Regions from separate parts of the Homo sapiens genome. Here region 2 is linked to region 1. Evidence: fine-mapped expression QTL. A gene starts in region 1. The other region holds a variant in brackets. All regions are shown on one strand. Distances are from middle to middle.

The links.
Region 2: its variant is fine-mapped to the expression of ZNF471 in esophagus muscle (GTEx, PIP above 0.99). The same link has a PIP of 0.9 or more in coronary artery.

Annotation. Positions count from the first base shown.
Region 1 is chr19:56,501,049-56,513,047 of GRCh38, reverse strand. ZNF471 (zinc finger protein 471) reads right to left here and starts at 5,193. Exons shown (of 5, transcript NM_020813.4): 1 at 5,128-5,193; 2 at 1,444-1,531. The coding sequence starts at 1,476. LOC124904776 (a long non-coding RNA gene) reads left to right here and starts at 9,298. Exons shown (of 3, transcript XR_007067352.1): 1 at 9,298-9,398; 2 at 10,575-10,624.
Region 2 is chr19:56,533,811-56,545,809 of GRCh38, reverse strand. ZFP28 (ZFP28 zinc finger protein) reads right to left here and starts at 6,862. Exons shown (of 8, transcript NM_020828.2): 1 at 6,584-6,862; 2 at 6,094-6,185. The coding sequence starts at 6,791. It overlaps ZFP28-DT (ZFP28 divergent transcript), which reads left to right and starts at 7,076. Exons shown (of 3, transcript NR_183967.1): 1 at 7,076-7,385; 2 at 8,073-8,159; 3 at 9,478-9,654. It overlaps ZNF470-DT (ZNF470 divergent transcript), which reads left to right. Exons shown (of 2, transcript XM_047439806.1): 2 at 1-235. The variant C/T (reference allele first, on the strand shown) is at 6,359.

The DNA.
Region 1 (11,999 bases):
GGCACACAAACTAAAAGGTCTGTATCTTTGGAAAATTATGTTAGGTAACTCACAAAATGGTTTTAATGCTGAGGAAGACACAGATGCCCAGAATCCATGTAAATGTTTTTTAATATCTCATGAACTCTGACAGCACAAGAAAAAAAAGCAGTGTTTCAAAATTAATTTAACGTAACTTTCCATATGAAGCATATAAATTAATTAAGCATTAATTATGGACATCTGACACTCATGTATGTCATGAAAACACATTTTCCACTTAGAAAAAATGTGAGGAGGGGAATTTCACAGTGGGAGAATTAAGGATTCCTTTTTATACATTGTTTCTTATACATGTGCAATATAATATTTAAAAATTAAAAGATTAAAAGCAGAAATTCAAGTAAAACTGAGTGTAGTACAGCAACAGAACCAAATACACACAGGAATTTAGTGCATGATATAGGTGGCATTTCAAATTAGTGAGAATGAGATGAATAATTCAATTAATGCCATTGTGCCAACTTGAAAAAATAAATCTCTGCCTCACTTATTATAAATTATACATGTAATGTAAAAATGTAATGTAAATTAAATGTAAAAATCTAATGTAAATTAAATTTAACATAAAAAGTTAATGTAATTTCAGCCCTACCATGATAGAAAACCACAAAAATCAAGTCTAAGCTTACCAGAAACTTAACTGTGAAGGATAAAACAAATCTTAGAAGAAAAATAGGACCTAAAGGTAGACAAAAATTTCATCAACAAGACACGAAAAATCATTAACTTTGAAGGGAAGAAAGTATTTTTGTATACACGCAAAGGCATAACATAGCTCTGAATGAGATACATGGTGAGAATAACTTCTTAAAATAACTGGGAGTTAAGGGTGAAATTTGTTTGTAAATTTTGTACCATGTCAACTTCTCACCTATTTAAATTTATAAAATTTGCAAAAATTAAGTAGAATAAGATTTTTCAGGTGAACGAATGAGGTTGGTAATTCATACTTAAAATGTAAAGAAAAACTTTTAAAGAATTTATCTTAAGGACATAATTAGAGATTTGGAGAAAACTTCAGGTAGAGGAATAATTCCTAATGCATTCTATATATAGGAAACGCACTGCATGCACATTTAACCTGGAGCCCAACTCACTAGTACTAACATATCCACATGTATATTCCACACAACATAAATCAAGTCTTTTCACAAGAGTCAACACTAAATTTAAAATGTACACAAGGTGGGAAGAGGAATCTCAGAGGGACCTCCATGACTTTTTATACTAAGCTATTACTCACTCATTAGGTAATTAGAGTTAAAGACAGTGGCCCCTGAGAGAAGTGGGAACTAGGCTCCTGGACTGTTAATCAGGGAATTTTCAAAAGAAAAGAAGCATTACAAAAAGTCCTAAACAGCAAGACTGCCTTTCATGAAGAGAAAGAAAATATCCACTAACCTGGGGCATGACTTTTACTACTTCAACATTCATTTTTGCCTTCTCTTCTGGTCTTTCTCTTGAAGAACAGTGTCTTGGGAGGGCAAGGCTGAAGGAAGGGAAAGGTTAGAGAGAGATGAGGCCAGAGATGCTGCACTCCCAGAATCACTAGCCTAAAACTGTCTTCTTCTTCCCAGCTTTGGTTGATCCCATAACTGGGTATGAGCAACCTATGGCCACTGAAGGGCTAAAACTCATAACGGTTTTTTTTTTTCATGCTTGAGGTCCTAAATTTAATCTTTTTCAAAGAGCTACCTTCCCATTCAGATGCATTAGGTACTCTGCATAGATTAGATTATCTCACTTTATTTTTCAAATAATCCTATAAAATAGTCATTTCCTCCATTTTACAGGTAAAGGTGGAGTCATTCTCTTCTTGGGTCTCTGCTTCATGCTTTGAAAGTCTACTGTTTGAAAATCTGGCTCCTTTCTGGGCCAGATGGATGGGGTTTTTGGGAAAAAAAAAAAAACAAAAGAAAAAGGAAAATCTGACTCCCAAATGCCACCAGAGGCCAGGGTTATCCTCCTTCTTCACTCAATCCCCACCACTGCATCCCTGACCCACCCCCCGGCACTGTTTCACTTTCCTCACCCTGAAACGATGGAACCTTTAGCACTCAATTCTGCCACTTTCACTCTCACCTCTGTCCCAGCCCCTTAATTACCCTCCTGTCACACAGAAGTGAGGGTGTCTCCTGCTTCAGTTAGGAGCTTCAGTCACCCCAGCTTTGCTTCTTACTGAAACCCTTGGACTGGGGACAGGAATTCTATTCCACATTTCCTATCCCGGCAACACACAATTCCAAACAGCCACACTCATAAAGAATCCAATCCTATCAATCTTCCAAGTAGTCTCTCCATACACAGCAGTCATACAGGGCCACAATTATGGGTATACAGGGTGACATACAAACACTAACACAGGTTTCATGGTCACACGGAGGACACAATCACAAGCACCCCAAAACAAGCACATATACACAGTCACATTTCCATTGCCTGAGGACATGAATATAAGCACACGTGGTGATTCACCAACACCTTCACACATACCCCCAATCTTACTTCTCTCACACACACAGCTCACTGTCCCTTATCTCTGTCTCACTCACACATGCATGCTTCACAACCTCACAGAGGTTATATTTGTAAAGCCTTTTGGATAACACACCATGGTTCACATAGTTTCTTTCTCACCCATTTTGGTCTCTCACACAACCACATCACTAGTCTTTCTCTCCCTCTTTCACACATATAAACATGATGGTCTCTCATACATACACATTCAATGGTATCTTTCAAAGAGGCCTCAGTTACTCAAATGCTCCAGTGTCTCACACAGATACACAAACACACTCTGATCTCTCATATTCCAACTGCTTTATCTCATGCACACAAAATACATACTGGTCACTCTCACTCCAATCTTTTTCATACTGTGATACACCCTCTCACAACCTACCAGTCCAGACAGAGACATACTCTAGTCTCTCACATACCCATTGGTCTCTCACACACTCACACCAACATACCCCAGTCTCTCCCAATCACTGAACTCTCAGTCTAGTCTCTTGCTTTTACTCAGACACACACATGATCTTTCTCAGACTCCAGGGAGCCTCATACTTGTTCATCTTTCACACAGGCACATCTATTTCTCTCACACATTGATATACCCTGGTCTCACACTCTGGATTCTCACAATCCAGTCCCTGATAACACACTCAGGTGACAAAGAGGAAAAACAAACTGTTTCTCCTACTCCACTCACACAACACAAAACAGTTCTAAGACCAGATGTGTGGGGATCTACACACACACACACACACACACACACACACACACACACACCAGGCAAGCAATAAGTTCTTCAGTGAATACCAGGTGGGTGACCTCTAGGGCAACCCAGTGAATACCAGGTGGGTGACCTCTAGGGCAACCCAATTCTGACACTATCTACCTGGAGACAGCATAAGATCCCACAGGTTGAGGGCTCAGCCCTACAAAATTGCTCCCCACTTCCAATGCCAGTTGCAAACCCCAGGTTGTTTTACTTGTGCTTCTGACTAGCTATAAATCGGGGTTCCTATGACCCCCTCCTTGCGTTCAATTAATTTGCTAGGGCAGCTCACAGAACTTAGGGAAACACGTTTGTAGTAATAAAGGATATTACAAAGGATGCAGGTGAAGAAATGCATAGGACAAGGTTATATAGGAAGGGGCTCATCCTACAGGAACCTCCAGTGTTCAGCTATCTGGAAGTTTGATGAACCCAGTCCTTTTGGGTTTTTATGGAAGCTTCATAATGTAGGCATGACTGGTTAAATCACTGACCACTGATGATCAGTTTAACCTGTGGCTCCCTTTCCTTTCCCTGGAGATTGAGGGATGGGGCAGGTAATCCCAACCCTCTAATCCTGCCTAGATTGTTCTTGTGACCATCCCTTACCGTGATCAACCTACAGGCTGCCAGCCCACCAATCATTAGCATGCAAAAAGACACTTAATACTTTGGAGATTCCAAGGATCTTAGAAGTCGTAAGCCAGGAAACATAACTTTGTCCTATACTTTGATCGCCTCCCTCTCTCTCACAAACTCATAACAACATAACCTAGTCTCACTCTTTGGACTCTCACAGTTTAGTCTCTTTCTCTCTCTCATACACACACACCAGCCTCTCAAGGAGCCTCACATAATGACTGGTCTTTCACACACAGCCACGTGCTCATCTCTCTCACACTCACTGGTCTCACGCTATGTTGTCTCTCACACACGAACACACCCTGGTCTCACACTCTGGTCTCTCTCAGTCTGTCAGACACACATAACACGGCCTCACACACTGACGGGTCTTTCACCCAAAACACCCATTTCTCACACTCACTGGTCTCCCTTTCACACATTAACATACCACAGTCTCACACTCTGTTCTTGCACAGTCTAGTCTCGCATACATGGTGATTCTTCTCTCTCTCGAACACACACCGGCCTCTCATTGAGCCTCACCCACCGACCGACCGGCCTTTCACACACAGGCACACGCCCATCTCTCACACTCACTGGTCTCTCACACTCCATCCAGCCCGTCTCACTCTCTCACACGAATACATCCTGGTCTCACGCTCTGGACACCTGGTCTGTTACACACTTACACACCCACACACCTCGCAACCTCTCACTGAGCTTCACACGCTCTCTTTCAAATGCAGGCACATCCCTATCTCTCTCACACTCACTGGTCTCTCACACTGGCCCGTCTCGCTCTGTCACACACGAACATACCCTGGTCTCACACTGGACTCTCGGTCTGTCACACACACACACACACACACACAGAAACCACACCCTCTCACGGAGCCTCACACTCTGACAGATCTTTTACACACAGGCACACCCCCATCTCTCCCACAGCTCACTCCAGTGGTCCCGCCGCCCCAAGCCGCCCCGAACGCCCAGCAGCCCCGAGCCGCGGCCTCCGCCCCGCAGACTCGAGTACGCGCGCCCCGCTGGCCTCTGGGAAATGTAGTCGTCCTGGGGACAGAGGACGCGGCTGGGCCTTCGCGACCCGCGTCGGAGCCGCCCGCCTCGCCTGCCCTTCCTGGCCCAGCCCTCGAGCTCGGACTCCCAAACCACCCAAAACAAACCCCCGGCCTCGTCTGGCACCCAGACGCTCTCATCCGAAGGACTCCGTGAGTCGACGCTGGAACCCCCCATCGCGCAGGCGCCAGCCTCTCTCCAGGGGTCGGACGAGAGGGGCGGAGACAAGGCGTGGCCTAGTGTTGAGGGGATTGTCCTCGGGCTGCTGAAGGAGTGAGAGGGACCTTAGAGCAGAGCGGGCGGTGCCTGCGCAGTGCGTGATTACGCGAGCCGGGCGTGGCCCAGGGTTCCGGCGGGTAAGAGCAGGAGTGTGCGCAGGCGCAAAGATTGCGCTCTCCCCCTCTCCTCGCCTAGAGACCAGAAGCGTCCCTAGTTACTAGTTCCTGGGGCCTGGGAGGGAAACGCGCGACGGCTGAGCCTTCGGTGTGAGTACGCGTGGGGCTTTGTGACGCTGTCTGTGCCTCTGTGATCGCGATGTCATTCGGAGCGCGGCCTTCTGTGCCAGTCCGTGGGAGTGTCATTATCTTTCTGTGTTAAGCTTATTTTGGAATAAGACAGCGACGAGGAACCCCGACCGTGTTGTGACTCTGGCGAATTAATACCTCTTTCAGCTGCAAATGGGAATGTCACTGATCAGAGGCAGTGAATAACACGACGTTTTTGGAACCAATCTGCTAGGCTTGAACCGCGTTCAGCCCCTTAACAAAATGGAAATGGTCCCCGTTTTAGGGGACTAGCCCTGACTAGGAGAACTGTAGAATTAGTATTGGAAGGTGAGACAAATAAGGAAAAGCAATTCAGGGGGATACAGCAGAGAAAAAAAAATCCCTGTCCTCTTATTATGTAATTTACTTTGAAGCGGAGAGAGACAAGCCACAAATTCATGAGTTAGATAAACAGTCTGATGAACAGTAAAAAGGGCTATGGAGAAATATAACTCAGAGAAGGTTGTATCGTATACATTTTTTCTATTGTCTCTTATAATGTCTTAACATGTCAAAAAAACCTGTCTGCAGCAGACACCAGCCAGGTGACCGCTACTCCAATTCAATTCTGACGCTACCTGGAAAACATCAGATCCTACAGGTTAGACAGCTCAGTCCCAAAAGACTGTCCCCCACTTCCCATGCCAATTCCAAACTCCAGATTGTTGTACCTGTGTTTCAGAGAGATGTGCTATAAATTGGGGCTCCCACAGCCGGCTCCTTGGGTTCCATTAGTTTGCTAGAGCAGCTCACAGAACTCAAGGAAACACTTATGTTTACTGGTTTATTATAAAAGATATTTTAAAGGATACAAATAGCCAGATGAAGAGACATGTAGGGCAAGGTCCGAGAGAATCCCTAGTGCAGGAACTTCTGTGCCCGTGGAGTTGGGGTGCACCACCCTCCCAGCACGAGGATGTGTTTTTGTCTACCTTCTTGGAAGCCGCTTGAACTCAGGCCTTTTCGGTTTTCAAGGTTTCATTATGTAGATGTGATTGATTAAATCATTGGCCACTGGCGATCAACTTAATTTTCAGGCTCTCTCTTTTCCCAGAAGTAGAGGGTGGAGCTGTGAGTTCCAGTCCTCTGAGCACATGGCTGGTTCCTCTGGCAACTAGCCACCACTCCCCCCAAATATTGGGATTATCTTGAGAGTTTCCAAAAATCACCTCATTAACATAAACTCATGTGTGGTTGAAATACTGTCTTTCACCTTTATGGCTCTGGAGCTGTTCTGGAGCTTTTTCAGGAACCAGGAACAAAAGGCCAGATATTTTAACAAAAGATACTTTATTGCTGCAGTCATTTAGGAAATTAAAAGAGCTGTAGGAACTGAGAGCCATGAACTGTACCTTTCTTTCTAACTCCACATTCAGTGATGTCATATTGGTAGATTGAAATCCACCACAAGGGGACTATTTACAGTATGGAAATACAGTCTACATCGCTAAAGGATGGAGATACATTCTGAGAAATGGGTTCTTAGGCAATTTCCTAAGAACCTTGTTGTGCAAACATCATAGAGTGTACTTACACAAACCTAGATTGTGTAGCCTACTACACACCCACACTCACTCAGACTGGGACAACTTAGACATACCAGTTAACTTACTGTGCACATCTTTGGGATGTGGGAGGAATCTGGAGTACCCAGAGAAAACCCATGGAGACATGGTGAGACTAGTCAGATTGCATTAGGACCCACCCTAACGACCTCATTTCAACTTAATTAACTCTGTAAAAATCCTATATCCAAATACAGTCACATTCTGAGGTACTGGGAGTTAGGACTTCAACATGCAAAATTTGGGGCAGACAAAATTCAACCAATAACAAGAGATTATTTTGATTCTTCTGTCCTCATTCATCCCACCAAGGAAGTAAGGGGTATTTCCATTATCATACTATATATTAAATTATCATTACATTACATATATAATGTTTTCTTTATCTAATTTTTACTTTATATATACCACATTTTTGTTCATGGGCCATCAAAGGTATTATCTCACATAATTCTTGTAAAAATAAAATTGAATAACTAACTTTACAGTTGAAGATTTAAACAATAAGGGACTTTTTCCAAAGCCACACATCTAATAAGTTTCAAAGGTATTACTCTAATTCAAGTTTCTTCTTTCCAAATTCAGAACTCTTTCCATCCTGTAACAGTGCACTATTTTTAAGCTTAACTCCTTTCTGAAGAATATCAAATTTAACAACAGTGTTGGTGACCAGGTGAATTTGGATTACAAATTAATTTCTGGGACAGAATATGATATTCTCAACTTTTGGAACTTCAGGTGAGAGTTGACCAGTTTTCCCCACAGGCTCCATGTGGTCAACGTTATTTGTTTAGAATTGGAAATGGCCTTGTATGACACTGGATCCAACTTATCCTAGCTTGGGGTCAGCTTTATTAATTCTAACAAACTCTTTTTTGTTTGTTTTGAGAAAATGCAAAGTTTGTTTAATCTCTTCAGGTTTCACAACCAGTGGTAGCATAGTGAGTTTATTCACGCCATCATGTTGAATTTTATAAAAGAATCTTACATATGGTTGACTGCTAACATCTACTTGCTTAGTCCCTGAGATTTGCTTATATGGGATAGAGTAGGAATTCCTACAAAAAGAAAGAGAGGTCTGAAAGATAAAATTCCTGGAGTAGCACTGAGTCAGAGTCTCTGGCAGAATCCCAACAAACTCACAGTTCCTGATTTACAGCCCAGGGATTCTTAAACAGTGGTGCCCAAGTGTAGTAACATCATTTGATTGTCCAAACATTAGTTAGCCTCTTCCCTGCCTTATATTATAATGTTCTTCAGGGCAGAAATGACCCGTATCTTGTCCTCTGTTCCTTCTACAGTGTCTAAGTAGATGTCAAGCACATAGTGGGTTATCAATACATTTTGTTAAATGAATGAATTAAAGAAGGACAAGCTATAGCCAAAACTTTAATGGGAGTTTGATGTTTTTTGCCTTTTGCAAGAATCTTGAAGCAAGAAGAATGGATACATTTATTCTTATTATCTCTCTTTTTCATTTAAGATTGTTTACCTAGTGAGAAATCCCAGAGATATAGTTACTTTTGGTTATTATTTCTGGAGAATGAGGATGGTCAAAAATACGGAGTCATTTAAATAATATTTGGAATGGTTTCTTCAAGGATATGGTGAGTCTGACTCTAAATATGGGTTCTTGGCCAGGTGCAGTGGCTCACACCTGTAATCCTAGCACTTCGGGAGGTCGAGCTGGGAGGACTGCTTCAGCTCAGGAGTTTGAGACTGGCCTGGGCAAAATGGTAAGACCTCGTCTCTTCTAAAAATCAAAAAAATTAGCTGGACATGCTGGCCCATGCCTGTAGTCCCAGCTGCTCAGGTGGCTGAAGTGGGAGGATTGCTAGAGCCCAGGAATTCAAGGCTGCAGTGAGCCATAGTCACACCACTGCACTCCAGCCCAGGCAACAGAGCAAGACCCTGTCTCAAAAAAAAAATGGATTCTTCCAGGTGCAGTGGCTCACGCCTGTAATCCCAGCACTTTGGGAGGCTGAGGCAGGAGGATCACCTGAGGTCGGGAGTTCGAGACCAGCCTGACCAACATGGAGAAACCCTGTCTCTACTAAAAATACAAAATTAGCCGGGCGTGGTGGCTCATGCCTGTAATCCCAGCTATGGGAGGCTGAGGCGGGAGAATCGCTTGAATCTGGGAGGCGGAGGTTGTGGTGAGCCGAGATCACGCCACTGAACTCCAGCCTGGGCAGCAAGAGCAAAACTCTGTCTCAAAAAAAAAAAAAGGATTCTTGAAGGGGTAGTGGAGTTTCTGCACCTCAACAGGTATTACTGTCTCACAGTTTAAATGAATGTTGCCATCCAAACTTCTAAGTGTTGTTAAATATCCGATACCTCCAGTTAGCAACAGAAGCTCAGTCAACGTGCTTTGTCCATACAAATTATTCTAAGTACTATGAACATTAAAAAAGATAACTTATGACATTCAAAATAAGAGGAGTGTAATTCACACTACACTGAGATACCATTTCTTACCTATCATACTGAGAAGTGTATTCATTTTTTTATCTCCGCTGTAACAAATTACCATAAACATAGCAGTTAAAGCAAAACAAAACAAAAAAATTATGTTGTGTAGTTCAGAATTCCAAAATATACTTTATGAGCTAAAATTAATGTCTGGGCCTAGCTGCCTGCCATTCCTGAGGCTCCAGGAGAGAATCTACTTCTTGCCTTTGCTGGCTTCAAGAGCAGTGGTCCTCAACCATTTTGGCACCAGGGATGGGATTTCTGGAAGATGGATGGGGCAATGGTTTCAAGGTGAAACTGTTCCACTTCAGGTCATCAAGCATTAGTTAGATTCTCATAAGAAGCGTTCAACCTAGATCCCTCACATGCGCAGTTCACAATAGGGTTCACGCTCCGGTGAGAATATGCTGCCACTCATCTCACAGGAAGCAGAGCTCAGGCGGTGACGTTTGCTCGCTGCTCAACTCCTTCTGTGTGGCCTAGTTTCTAACAGGTCACAGACTGGTACCGGTCTGCGGCCCAGGGGTTGGGGACTCCTGTTCTACAGGCTGCCCTCATTTCTTGTCACAAGGCTGCATCTCTCTTGTCATCAGGTCTCCTTTGCTTCTTACACTTCAGCCTCCCTCCTATAATGACCCATGTGATTACAGTGCCTTCACCTGAATAGTCCATGGTGCTCTCCCTGTTTGAAGATCCTTTAATCACATTGGCAAAGTCATTTTTGCCATGAAAAGTAACAAATGAACAGATTTTGAGATTAAGACATGGACATCTTTGGTGTTGAGAGCGGTGGGGAGGCTCCTTCCTACCACACAGCTAGCATTCAAATTATTCAGATCACTCTAGTGGAGAGACCCTGGGTAGACAGGTATGCTCATATGTTGGCGGTTAGAAGGAAAATGACACAAGTCTGTGTAAGATAAGTTTGCAAATCCTCACATTCTAACACTTAAAATTTACATTTTCATGCAGAATTCCCCCTTCTCCAGTGAAAAAAGTATACAAGCAAAACCACGAAAAAGGTAGATTTACAAAACTATTCAAATGTTTCTTATTTGTAATAGCAAAAAAGAACCAAAATTCCCACCGACAATATCCTGGAACAGCACCCAACTTACAACAAGAATAAGGAATACTGCCACACCACTGCAGAGTGGCCTCTAGGATCCCCTGTTAACTTAAAAAGATTAAGGTATGGAACAAAGTTTGTGACTATTCTACCAATGAACCAAGACAGAGGACAACCCAGAAGACTGCACAGGGAGAGCAGAGCTGGCACAGCTTGGAGTCAGGGTTGGGAGTCAGGTGTGGTCAAGACATGAAGCTACTAACGTCTGCATGGTCGATATCATGGACAGCCTTAAATACAGAATTAAGGAGCTTGGATTTTAACCTGTATTCCGAGTTTAAAAAAATACTGTTTCTGACAAGTACTCTCAGATTTTGGGAGTGGAATTTTTATAAAAGATATTTTAAAGGCTGTAATGCTCCCGCCCCCAAATTTAAAACGTGTTCTAGTTTTGTCAGCTTATCCAAGTCTCCAGCATCTTGCGAGGTTCCCCTATGAACCCATGGAGTATCCATATTTTTAACTACTTCAATTTTGGTATAGCAGCATGGCATGGCCCCAAGGTCCATGATCTTGCATGTTCCTGCATAAATGCTCTCCTTTCAGAGCTCCAAGTGTCTGCATTCAAACAGTGACTATCCAACTTTTTAATAGCTGTTTTTCGGCAGAAAGATGACATAACTTCTATGAGCCTCAGTTTTCTTATTTTTCAAATGGGGATTGGGACTGTATTCATTGAAATAGTGCTGAGACCCCTTCCATGCATAAAAATAATGTGGTATCTTCAGTGTAAGATGAAAAAAAAGTCTTCCTTTTGGTTTTTGAAGGTCTTGGAGTTTATTATCTATATCAGGTTGAACACATCACTTGGTTATTAGAACGTTAGATCATGTCCACAATCAGAGCTCCTATTGGATTATTCCAAACCCTGAGTTGCAGACAACATTAGACATGACAAGGAATTCAAGCAAAAGGGAAACAGAAAACACTGTGCTTTTTCAATGAATCCAATGTAGGAATTGAGCTCCACCTTTTTCAGGAATAGCTGCAATTGTGGAATCAAACAGAAGTCCCTAAATCTCTGCAGTTTTCTGCTTGAATGTTTCATTTTCTAGGTCTCAGTGTAAGTTTCTATTATTTTGTGCCCACATGACCTGAATGTGACCTGACCATTTCTGAGTATGAGGAATTCAATTTTATTGTCCAGATATACAGAGAGAAACAAGTTCACTGTTGATACAAAGAGCAAAAATGTCAAGAGAAGAGGCACTGGTGTGCATACGTCAGATGCCCCACTCTGCAAAAATCAATAATATCTAAGTAATAAG
Region 2 (11,999 bases), 33 kb before region 1:
GAGCCTTGAGCTCCCTTCAAAGTATCCAAGCCAACCCTGTCTTGGGAAACTCACCTAGATAATGCCCTGAACCCCAATAAAGGCTCCAGCCCACAGGTCCCTCCCTCTCTCTTGGTCCCCACCCTTTGGCTGGGCATGTGTGTCCTCAATGTCTCCAAGCCCTTCCAGTAAGCCCTGCAAGGTGTGCTGGCCACTGTTCTCTGGAATCTGTGAGTAATAAACAATCTTTTTGCCATTCTGCTCTAAGTGTCCCTCACCATGCTGCATCTGACTACACAAAACCTAATTTAAATACCTCACTTAACAAACCACAACACCAACCAAGAGCTGAACCTTTTAAAGATTCACATTATTCTACTAGAAACAAAAGTCCCTTTGAGGTTTGATATCTGCTGAATAATATACAATCACTTGTTCTTTAACCTGCTACCAAACTTTAAGGACATTTGTAACTGAATTGTGTAAAAATAGGTCAAAAGGGTTTTGTAAGTGATATCCCAATTTGAGTGAATATCAACTGCAGAGGGAGTTGAATCAGTCAACTGCAGAGCTACACTCTTGATGGTAAACTCATCATGGAGAAGTCTCCTAAGCTGGGGACTGAAAGGCCCCCTGCAGTGTAAACCATGAGGTAATACTTGCAGGAAACAGCCAAGAACTGCTTAATGTCCTTGAGCAAAAGACACACTAATATGGCTACCTGAGGAAGCTAGTCTAAAACAAATGCTGGTCAGCTCTCAGCAATAATTTTGCAAGTTGAAGCATCTTGGCATAAAAGAAGAGGAACTTATTTGCTTGCCAAGAAGAATCAACCCTAGTTTCCCAGGTTGATCATGCTATGCATTAGTGATCTGCTTTTGTACCAGTGGTTTGTTAAATGCCTTCAATGTAATCACGTAGAGGGACCCAACGTTAGCAATATACATATATCCTCCTAAGACATTTTCTGTTTATTCGGACAGCTCTTTATGTATAGAATCAATGACTTTTGTTTTAAAAATGTCTTTTACTGTAAATAACAGCAATAACAATAGCTGAAAGCACTTACAACACTTCAGACGCAATTCTATATACTTATATATTAGCTTATTTAATCCTCACAACGATCCTAATAGTCAGTACTATTACTATTCCCATTTTACAGATGAGAAAATATTGAGCTGTAATGTGCCCAGGATCACAGACAGTCAGCTGTAGAGCTGGGTTTTGAACCCAGGAGTCTGACTCCACAGTCCATGCTCTTAACCTCCACTTCAGGTGTCAGCAAAGTTTTTCTGTAAAGAGCCAGAAAGTAAATATTTTAGGCTTTGTGGGCCAAATAGCCTTGGCCGCAACTCTTCAATTTTGCCACTGTAGCACAAAAGCAGTCATAGATAATACATAAACAAACAAGTATGTTGTGCTACAATGAAATTTTTTTTATGGACACCAAAATGTGACTTTCATTTAATTTTCATGTATTCTTCTTCTTTTGATTTTTTTCAACCACTGAAAAATGTAGAACTCATTTGTAGCTGGTGGGCCACACAAAAGGAGGTGGTGGTGGGCTGGATTTGGCCTATAGGCCATAATTTGCCCAGTTCGGTCCTATATTAAACACTTTTTTTGAAGTACGCCATCTAAGTGTCTTGCCTGTAAATTTCTAAAACCGTCATGATGACATGAGGATGCTGCCAGCTAACACTAGTAAGTCCTTACTATGTGCCAGGTACCTCAATCCAGGCACTATACACATCTTAACTTAATCCTTACAAGAACTGCTTGAGGCAGGTCCAATTATTTTCCTCATTTTACAGATGAAGAAAATGTGGTCACTTGAGTTGCCTGAAGGTTACGCAATGATTAGATGCTAGGGCTAGCATGTGAACCTAGTCCATGACCTTTGACCACTTTGCCATTCTACTTCTATTAAAAGGTTCCACTTTGATAATAGCAGTAATACTTAGTATCCATTCACCCTGACAGTGAAACAAGTTCCAGTAGAAAACATGTTTTCAGATAAAAATAAAATGAACTTTCCCTAACTGATGTCTGGATCAACCTACTTAATTTAGGTGGAGACAAAACATTGTCAAATGTGCAGGTCCTGTTCTTATTCCTGTTGCTGCAACATAAATATGCAGACTTCAAAATGGGTTTCACATTTTTACACTATACCACAGAGAAAACATTATACAGGCACAGAATCTACTCCTGATATAGGCATCTGATGTAAGTTAACTCATCTTAATATACATATGAACTGGGTATGGTGGCACACGCCTATAGGCCCAGCCACTCAGAAGGCTGAGGCAGGAGAATTCCTTGAGCCCAGGAGTTTGAGGCTGTAGTACACCATAACTGTGCCTGAAAATAGCCAATATACTCCAGTCTGGGCAAAACAGTGAGACTCCCATCTCTTAAAAAAATTATATATACATATATATATAATATACATATATTAATATATATATAAAATATACATATATAATATATTCTATATAATATATAAACACACGCACACACACAAAGATAGAGACATTAAAAGAATACCAACAAAAAATAAAAGCAACTTTATACTTACAGAAAAATCTTTCTGTTGAAATTTCATAGAAAAGAATGAATATGAAGTACTTTATAGAAAAAATACACTAAAAAGATTTGTTTAAATTCAATTCAGTTAATTTTTAAAACATACAAATAAACATTTATTTGGTAATAACTATTATTCCTGATGAAGTGTACATTTTTTTCAAAACATGAATTCTAGCTTTTGAGGCACCACTGCTGTTCTATCCAAAAATAATTTTAGAAGTATTCCGATTTCACATAAGCTTAGGAAACCTTAATCCATGAGGCAAGAAAAACTTCTAGGAATGTATTCATACAAAATAATCAGGGGCTGGGCATGGTGGCTCACACCTACAATTCCAGCTCCTTTGGAAGCCAAGGTGGGAGGATTGCTTGAGGCCCGGAGTTTGAGGCTGCAATTATCTATGACTGTGCCACTGTACTCCAGCCTAGGTGACAGAGTGAGACCCTGTCTCTAAAAGCAAAAAAACAAAATAAAAAAATCAGGGACGAAGCACATTTTCAGGTATAAAAATGACTATTCTAACACTATACTAAATATCAAAACACTGGCCACAAGAGAACTTTAAGACTATATTCAAACATTCATCCACCAAATATTTTCTGTATCAGACATTAGGCAAAACTGCCCCAAATCCTTGCCTATGAAGTAAGGAAATGAGACAAGAGAAACTGAGATAAATTAAGTAAAATACATTTGACCTTCGAACAACATGGATCTGGGCTGCAAGGGTCCACCTATATGCAAATTTTTTCAACCAAATGCAGACTGAAAATACAATTATTGTCTGGGCGCGGGGAATCACACCTCTAATCGCAGCAATTTGGTAGCCCAAGGCGGGCGGTTGCCTGAGGCCAGGAGTTCGAGACCAGCCTGGGAAACATGGCAAAACCCCATCTCTACAAAAAATACAAAAATTAGCTGGGCATGGTGGCACATGCCTGTAATTCCAGCTACTTCGGAGGCTGAGATGGGAGCACTGCTTGAGCCTGGGGAGGTCAAGGCTGCAGTGAGCCGTGATGGCACCACTGCACTCCAGCCTGGGTGACAGAGTGAGACCTTGTCTCAAAAAAGATTATTTGTGGTATGGAAAACCTGTGTCCACTGAGGGCTGACTTCTCATATCTGCAGGCTCCACATGGCTGATGAATAAGTGCAAATTTTGGTATACGTGGGATTTCTGTATATAGTATGTTGAAAAGTACTACGAGGGCCAGGCACAGTGGCTCATGGCTGTAATCCCAGCACTTTGGGAGGCTGAGGTGGGCGGATCACTTGAGGTCAGGAAATCGAGACCAGCCTGGCCAACATGGTGAAACCCTGTCTCTAAAAAAAAAAAAAAAAAAAAAAAAAAAAAAAATTAGCCAGGTGTGGTGGCTACTCGGGAGGCTGAGGAAGGAGAATCATTTCAACTCAGGAGGCGGAGGTTGCAGTGAGCCGAGATCACGCCACTGTACTCCAGCCTGAGTGACAGAGCAAAACTCTGTCTCAAAAGAAAAGTACTAAAAGAAAAAAGCAAAGCAGGGAAGAGGGATGTGAAGAACAGGTAGGAGGCTCTGAAATTCTAGACAGGGTGAGCAGGAAAATGAGAAGGCGATTTTTCAGAAAGAAGAGAGTGATGTAGATGTCAGGGGTAACAAGGAGCCAGGTCATGTAGGGCCTGGTCAGTAACAGGAAGAGTTTTGGCTTTTATTCAGAGAAACCACTGGAGGGTCCTGAGCACAGCGTGACACAAGGTGACATGTTTGAATAGACCCCTCTGGCTGCTCATCGGGAAGGGGCTGTGGGGAGCGTGAGCAGAAGCAGGAGGTCACAGAAGCACAGTCAAGAAGCCCACAGTAAAAGGAGGACTTGGACCTGCTGCTGGTGATAGATGTGATGAAAACTGCCAGATTCTGCACATAATTTGCAAATAGAACTGACAGGATTTGCATCAGGACCAAATATGGAAGGAAAAGGCAAGAAATGAGCCAATCATGACAAGGCTTCCGGACTGAGTAACTGAGAGGATGAAACGGCCACTGACTAAGACTCAAACTGTGGGAGGAGCTGGTTTATGGGAGACTCTCAGGACTTCGGGTCTGGACAGGCTGTCTTGAGTTACCCATCAGACACTCAGGCAGAGGAGTGGAGCAGGATACACAGGCCGGCGGCTCAGAGGAGAGGTTTGGGCTCACAATGTGAATCTGGGAGGAGCCACCATGTGGGTAGGTTGTACAGACAAGGAACAGGCTACTATCCCCAGGAGACAGCATGCAGACAAAAAAAGAAAGGGCCATGAGCAGAGTGCTGAGGCACACTCTGTTCAAGTCACGGAGGTAAGAACTGTGGCAAAAACTGAGCAGTCAGGAAGATGAAAGTCAGATGAGTGTGAGATCCCAGTAGCCAAGGGAAAAAAGGGGGCCTATTGAAGGACAGGGATGAGCTATTTGAGGGATAGGTAGCCACCTGTTTTGTAACTGAAGTTTTACTGGAACACAGCCCATCCATTCATTTACATATTGTCTTTGGCTACTTTAGCTCTATAAGAGCAGAAAGGAGTAGATGCAGCAGGACTTTCAAAGCCTAACATATTTTCTGCTGTGGCCTCATCCAGCACAAGTTTGCCAGCCTCTGAGCTATTTCAAATACCAATGATAGTCAAAAAAGACTAAGAATTGAGCACTGCATCTGGTAATGTGAAGATCACAGTAACCCACTCAAGAGCAGTTTGGGTAGGACAACTGGAAGCTGGTTCATCTGTACATATATTTTTTGAGGCCTCAGTGGAAGTGAAATGGTTCATCTATTAATGAGCTAGCTATGATATTTATAGGAGAAGCCAACCGAAACAAACACAACTATTTACTGGCATGTTTTAAAGCCACAAAATCAAGTGGAAAAGCCTTTCATATTGCGCCTCCTCTCCCTAAAATGTTGTCTTTCTTTACTGTGCCTCCCAAACATCTTCTCTCCCTTCAAGGCAAGGCTCAAAAATCACCTCCTTGGTAAATAGGCCTACCCTTCCGCTACAGGAGGCTGGAAGCCAGGAGCGCCTTGTAGTCCTCGCTCATAATACTTGGCCCAAGGATGATCACATTCTAGAATCTTGCTTGTTTCCTTGACATTGGGTCAACAGGCTGTGAGCTCCAGAGCAGGGACTAGGGCTTAGCTATTGGTTTGCTCAGTGGCTGGCACAAAGTGGTCACCAAACAAACCATGTATAGCAGAAGAGTCTGCCGTGTTCCTCAAGGGGCACAATTCCTCCATCAGAGTCCCTCTGAGAAAAGCGGTACAAGGGAGAGGCTGAATCATTTCATCAATCAAGAATGAAGGCTGATTGGGATGAAGAAGAAGCAGGCATCGAGGCCCCGGGCAGTTTAAACTTTTCCCCGTAGCCCATCACTTCACTAGAACGTGAAGAAATAGAAACCCGCGCCCAAACAGGTCTCTTAAACTGAAAACTTTCAAGAAAATAAGCAACATTAAGTCCCGAAAAGCAAGACTGCATTTCAGAGACAAGAGATGAAATGCCAACTCACCTGGGACATGGCTTTAGGTTCAATTCCTGTCCCCACAGCCTCCAGCTTCTTGTTTCTCTCCTGGGGAAGAGCAGTGTCCCTGGAAGGCAGAGCTGAAAGAGAAAGGAGTAGCTAGAGACCAGGTCTACACCACAGTCCCAAATCACCAGCCTAGAAACGTCCCTTCCTGCATGAAAAGGTGGGATCAGATCATTACCCTGCCTAGGGACTGCCACAACGTGGAGATAGGTTTTTTTCCTCCCTGGGAGCACGAAAACAGGAAAAG[C/T]GTCTAGTTAGAGTCACCCTGGGAAAGTCAACACCCTTTTACCGCGGCTTGCTGCTCTGAATCAGTTGAGCTTCCAAATCTTCAGATTCTCCCACTCCACCAGCTTCAAAGACCAGGGGCACAGTTCTCCAGCAACTGGTCCCCGAGAGCCCAACCCCCTCCCAGATCTCATCCCGAGATGAATTCGTCCCTGTCCGCTCGGCCCCAAACACCTGTCACTCTCACCTCTGTGCCCAGGCCCCGTAGGGGCCGCTCCTCGCTGGCCTTTGGATGCGAGGCCATTCCTTGAGCGCGGCCTTCCCCGGGCAGGGAGGGCCAAGGTGGCTGGAGTCCCTACAGTCGGGCCTCGGCCCGCCCGGGGCTTTGTGCGGGGGGCGCCTCTACCCGGGAGCGGCGTCGGCTCGCGGACACTCGCGCTCGCCGCCCCCCGCATGTCACCCGAGGCCGCGCGACGCCCTTCCGACCGGTCCCTCACAGACCCACACCCCTGGCCACACCCGCCCGCCACGCCCAGCGAACAGCCCCGCGCGCGCTCCCCCATGGCCCGGCATCCACTGGGCCGCGCCGCGGAGCCGCCCCGCCCCCGGCCGCGCCCCGCCCCTCCCCACCCCTCCCCGCTGCCCCGCCCCGCCCCGCCCCGCCCCGCCCCGCCCCGCCCCGCCCCGCCCCGCCCCGCCCCGCCCCTCAGCCTAGAGAAGCCCGGCGCTTCCCACTTCCAGTGCGCAGGCAGCGCCGCCGGAACCGGGCGTGGCCTCGGCGCAATGCCCGCTGGGAAGCGTAGTCCCAAGCAGGGACGGATGCGGCGGCCCTCGGAGCTCAGGTTGCAAGATACGGTTTGGCCCCGGGCCTATGCAACGCCCGTCCGTCCTGCCCTCTGCGGGTCGCTCTCACTTGTCCCTGGACCGCAGCCGCCGCATAAGTGGTGGCCAACGCTGGGCCTGGGTGTGGCCGGAAGCAGAGGCCGCTCTGACTACACACCCACCCCCCAAAGGCTTCTGGGAGTCGCGCAGGCGCAGCGGCAGACCGGGTGAGGCGGGGCTTGCGGCGAGGGGTGGGACCGCAGGGCCGGAGTAAAAGGGTGCTTGGCTGTGACAGGTGCTAAGGGCCTGGGCGTCAGCTCCTTGCGGGAGCGTCACTGCCGACCGGGAAGGGAAAGGCAATCTTGGGGGCCTCCGGAGTCCGGAGGATCACTCTGATGGGTGATGTGTGTGGGCTAGGAAGGGGGATGTAGAGAGCTTGTGGGATTGTTTTGGGTGCCCCCTCACCTTCTCCCATTATCTCTGGCTACACGGGCCTCCCATCCTCCAAAATACCATTTTCCATTTTGTAACCTATGTATTTGCACGTCCTGGGTCGAAATAGTCTAACCCCAAATTTTCGTCTGGGCTGGCTCCTTTATGCCATTCACTTGTCATCGCCTCAGAGAGGGCTGCCTAACGTCTCAAAAATACCAGCCCTGGCGACCTCTTAAAGTTCCCTTCCTGTGTGAATCACGGTCTGAAGTTAGCTGATGGATTTATTCTTGAACATGTTTAGGACCGGTCTCTCCCCCAGGGGCCTTATCAGAACTGGAGAGCTTCATCCTGGGAGCCAAGGGCCTTGCTGGCTCACAGGCAGTGATGCTGTTACACCAGTCATCACAGATGCACTGACCTCTGCACGCCCAGTCACACTGCACGCCTGGTCTCCTTACTCTTGAATTGATTTCTTTCAGGTCTCCTGGCCTCAGTGATGGAATTAAGATGACTTCTATCTCTGAATCCAAGGGTGACTGAAAGCCGCAAGCTGCAGAAAGGACAAGGTCAGCATTTCTCTCAAAGCACTTCAGTCTCATAGAAAAGGCTTAGTTTCAGTCAGGTGGACCTAGCCATGTAATAGCTGTGGCAGACACTGCTAATGGTCTCTCTGGTGTCTATTTTGCACTCCTTCCACAGCAGAACATTGATGCTCTTCAAGTGGCCATCTGCCCAGCTTATAATACTCACCTCCCCAGTCTCCTTGTAAGGAGTAGTGGCTCTGTAACCAATGAATTTTAAGTACACATTTGCTGGGGGTTTGGTGGATGTGTGGAAAGAGACACAGCTGGCATGTAACTCTGGCCTTTTGTCATCTCACACAACCTTCTTCCTGCTTGGGTATGACACAGGATGTCAACAGGTAGAACAGCTGTAGAGAGCTGGCAAAGGGATCGTGGCCAACTCAACATTCCACTGGAGGCTATATGATCAAACAGCAAACTGTTTATCATGAATGCAGAATGTGGGCAAAGTCGCTTCTGCTCCAGCCACCAGAAGGTTTGCTGAAGGCAATCACTCCCTGGTGTCATGCTCCTTGAGGTTATCTAATGGGACATCTAGAGCCTATTGGTTGACGAATGCAGTCTTGCAAGCCTGCTGTAAATCAAGCTACTGACCGACAACCACCCCCCTTCTCCCTATTCACTCTAATAAATACGAAGGGCTGTAAAGGCTCAGGGCCTGTGTTCACTGGAAGCAAGGAGCCCCCAGACCTCTTCTTCCAAATATACTCTTTTGTCTTTGTCTTTATTCCCATGTTTGTCATCCTTTGTTCAGTCCAACAAGGATAGGGTCCGCTGCAAACAGCCACCTTGGCATCATGAGGATGAAAGTTATGCTAAAGATGGCTTAGCAGAAAAAAAGAGAAATAAACAATCAAAGAAATGGTATTAGAAATGAAAAAGTGGACATAATCACAGAAATTTTTAGAATTTTGCAAATACTGTGATCACCTTATCTCAATATATTTAAAACATATGCAGGGGCTTACCATAGAGAAAATTATAAGTACCAAAACTGACTCAAGAAGAAATGGAAAATCATTAAATAAGTTCTCAGGCTTTTCCATGAATACCAAAGCAATAAATAATCCTTATCCTATAAAACTATACTGGAGAATTTAAAACTAGACACCCTTGATACCAAAACTGGACAAGGACAGTAGGGAAAGAATTTAAGTAGGGAAAGAATTCCAATCTTCAGGGACAACATACACATTAAAATCCTACCTAAAGTGACAATAAACAAAGTCCAGCAATACATAGAAAAATATGTCATGTCCAAGGAAGATATGTCAGAATACTTTCATGTTCTGGAATGTAGAGGCATCACCTATGTGGATAAAGACAGCATCCTGAGTTGATGGAGAAATGGCATAGAAGGAACCAGGTCCTTTGATGACATCATGGAGCAAAGCTGTCTTCTTGCCTTGACCTGCTACCTACCTACATGGGAAGCTGTTACTTGAGAAGGCAATAAAATCTATCTTCTTTATTGACAGAGTTGACAATACCTTTTTTATCTTATTGTAGCAGTCACTTATCCTCAAATGACTGCTATATCCTATTTTCCTATTATATGGGGCTATATGCGTCCTTGTTCATATTTAGCAGAGAAGCAACAGAAGCACACTAAAGAATTATGAAGAAAAATATTTCAATATATCCAAATTTTTAGAGAGCTATAAGAATAATTTCATTATTAAGTTCTCCTGCAGCAGGAAGTTGACAAAATATCTCATCTTAACCACCAGGAGTTACACTGTGCTTTTTTTATAAACCCAAAACTATAGCTTTTTGAAAAACAGAAACCAACAAGAAAGATGAATAATCTCCCGGCTGAATCATTTAGATTAAGCTGATACAACTTATGAACTACTGCCAATCTTCACATTTGCCATATTTATAAATTGTTTTATTAATTTTTTTAAAAATTCAGTATAAAGAGTAATATATACTCACAATAGGCAAAAATAAAATTTATAGCACAAAGAAAGGATGTCATATGCTTAGGTGTCAGATGTTTAACAAACAGAATGTACAACATAATGACATTTGATTTGGGAAATAATACTTAGTCCAATGAATTTAGTTATCCAAGGAATCTACTGATTAAAAATATGAATTTTCTATAAAATCATAATTTCTGATTCTATATTTTTCTCTGGAGAGGTATTTTATGTTTTATGTCCATAGGGCCTTACCACATCATGGGACATAAGTCTTTCCTTAGTCACTCAGGAATAGCCTTGTGATATCTGGCTAAGATGAAGGGCAGTCTACTCCTGTCACTGGGAATTCAGTCAGCTTTCGATGAATCATCTGAGGGTGGAAGAGACACCTGAGCACAAGTTGAGTTTTGTTAGAAAAGACAAAAAGGAGACTGGATGCCAAGCAGGTAACCAACAGTACATACTGCCAAGAAGTTATCACAGGAGTGCCACGGTGGGGAGCCTGTTAATATCATTCACCACTATTAATAAATAAGGATGAAACAGTTCCTGGAATCATCTCAATAGATGATTGAGATAAAATGCAGCTCACACCTGTGATTTTAAAAAGAAAAAGCCTTAGCAAACTAGGAATGGTGGAGAGCTTCCTTACTTGGATAAGAAGATGGAATAAAATTATTATAAACCCCAAATACTTTCATTCAGCTTTGGTTAAAATGGTCTGTCAACATCAGACTGGAAAGCAAAGGTTTCCATAGGTAGTCCTGAAAATGGAAAGCAGTGGCATAGACTTTGTCTTTTATTATAAATAATATTTACTCATAACTTATTATTAATTGGAAAATGGAAAAAAAAAGCCTCAGACCAAGAGGTGAAACCTCACTTAGGTTAGATTTTGTGAGCCTACTTTAAAAGCAGTAGAGTGATAAATTGGCCTTCATCAAACTGAGATACACAGCATGTGAAATAAAAAATTCACTGGGCTTAAAAGCAGAATGGAAACAAAAGAAGTAAGACTAAGTGAACTTGAAGAGAGATTGATGGCAATTATCCAATCTGAAGCACAAAGGAAAAAAAGTTGGGGGGAGAAAAACACTGCTTCAGAGCAATGAACAGGCAGTAACTAAAATTCAAAATACAATACCATTTCCGATTATGAATTTTAGCTCCAGATCAACTGCAAGAACAAACCAGAAATCCCAAGAGTACCCACAGACCCTCTGAAGGAGGCAGGAGACACCCCAAATACTGTGAGTGCCCCAACTTCGGAAATGGGAAAGAGAGATCCTCCTCTTCCAAACATACCCCACCCCAACTGGAGAAACTGAAGGTCTGTTTGTGGGAGAAGTTTCTGACATTTCCTGGAGCTGAGTCAATTTAGAGAGCTGAGCAAAATACAGGGATAGAGGAAGCAGCGGGAAAGACCCTGGGAGCTTGCTGGACCCCAGGCAGGCCATTCCTGCCTGGCACCACAGGGATCCACTGGGAGGGCACTCAGGTGAGAGGGGGAAAACACCAAAGGGAGAAGGAAATCTCCAGCTGCACTTTGTGACACTTTGAACTGGGTGAGAAGCCTCCTGGTCAGAACTTGAGGCAGGGCACAGATCAGGTGTGCAGACTCTGCAGGCAGGAAAGAACGAAGCCCTTTTCTTTTGCAGTTTGGAGGCTCGTAGCCTGGGGCAAGTTCTCAAGCCTGGTTCATCCACTGGCTGGAAACAGACTCAGTTCTGTTGGGGGGTCACAGTAGGAGTGAGACCGGTTCTTTCGTTTGTGTGGGAGCTGGGTGAGGCCTGTCACTGCCAGCTTTCCCCCACTGCCCTGACAACCAGCATGACTCAGCAGAGGCAGCCATAATGCTCTTAGGTACCCAACTCCATTCATCTGGGAACCTCAC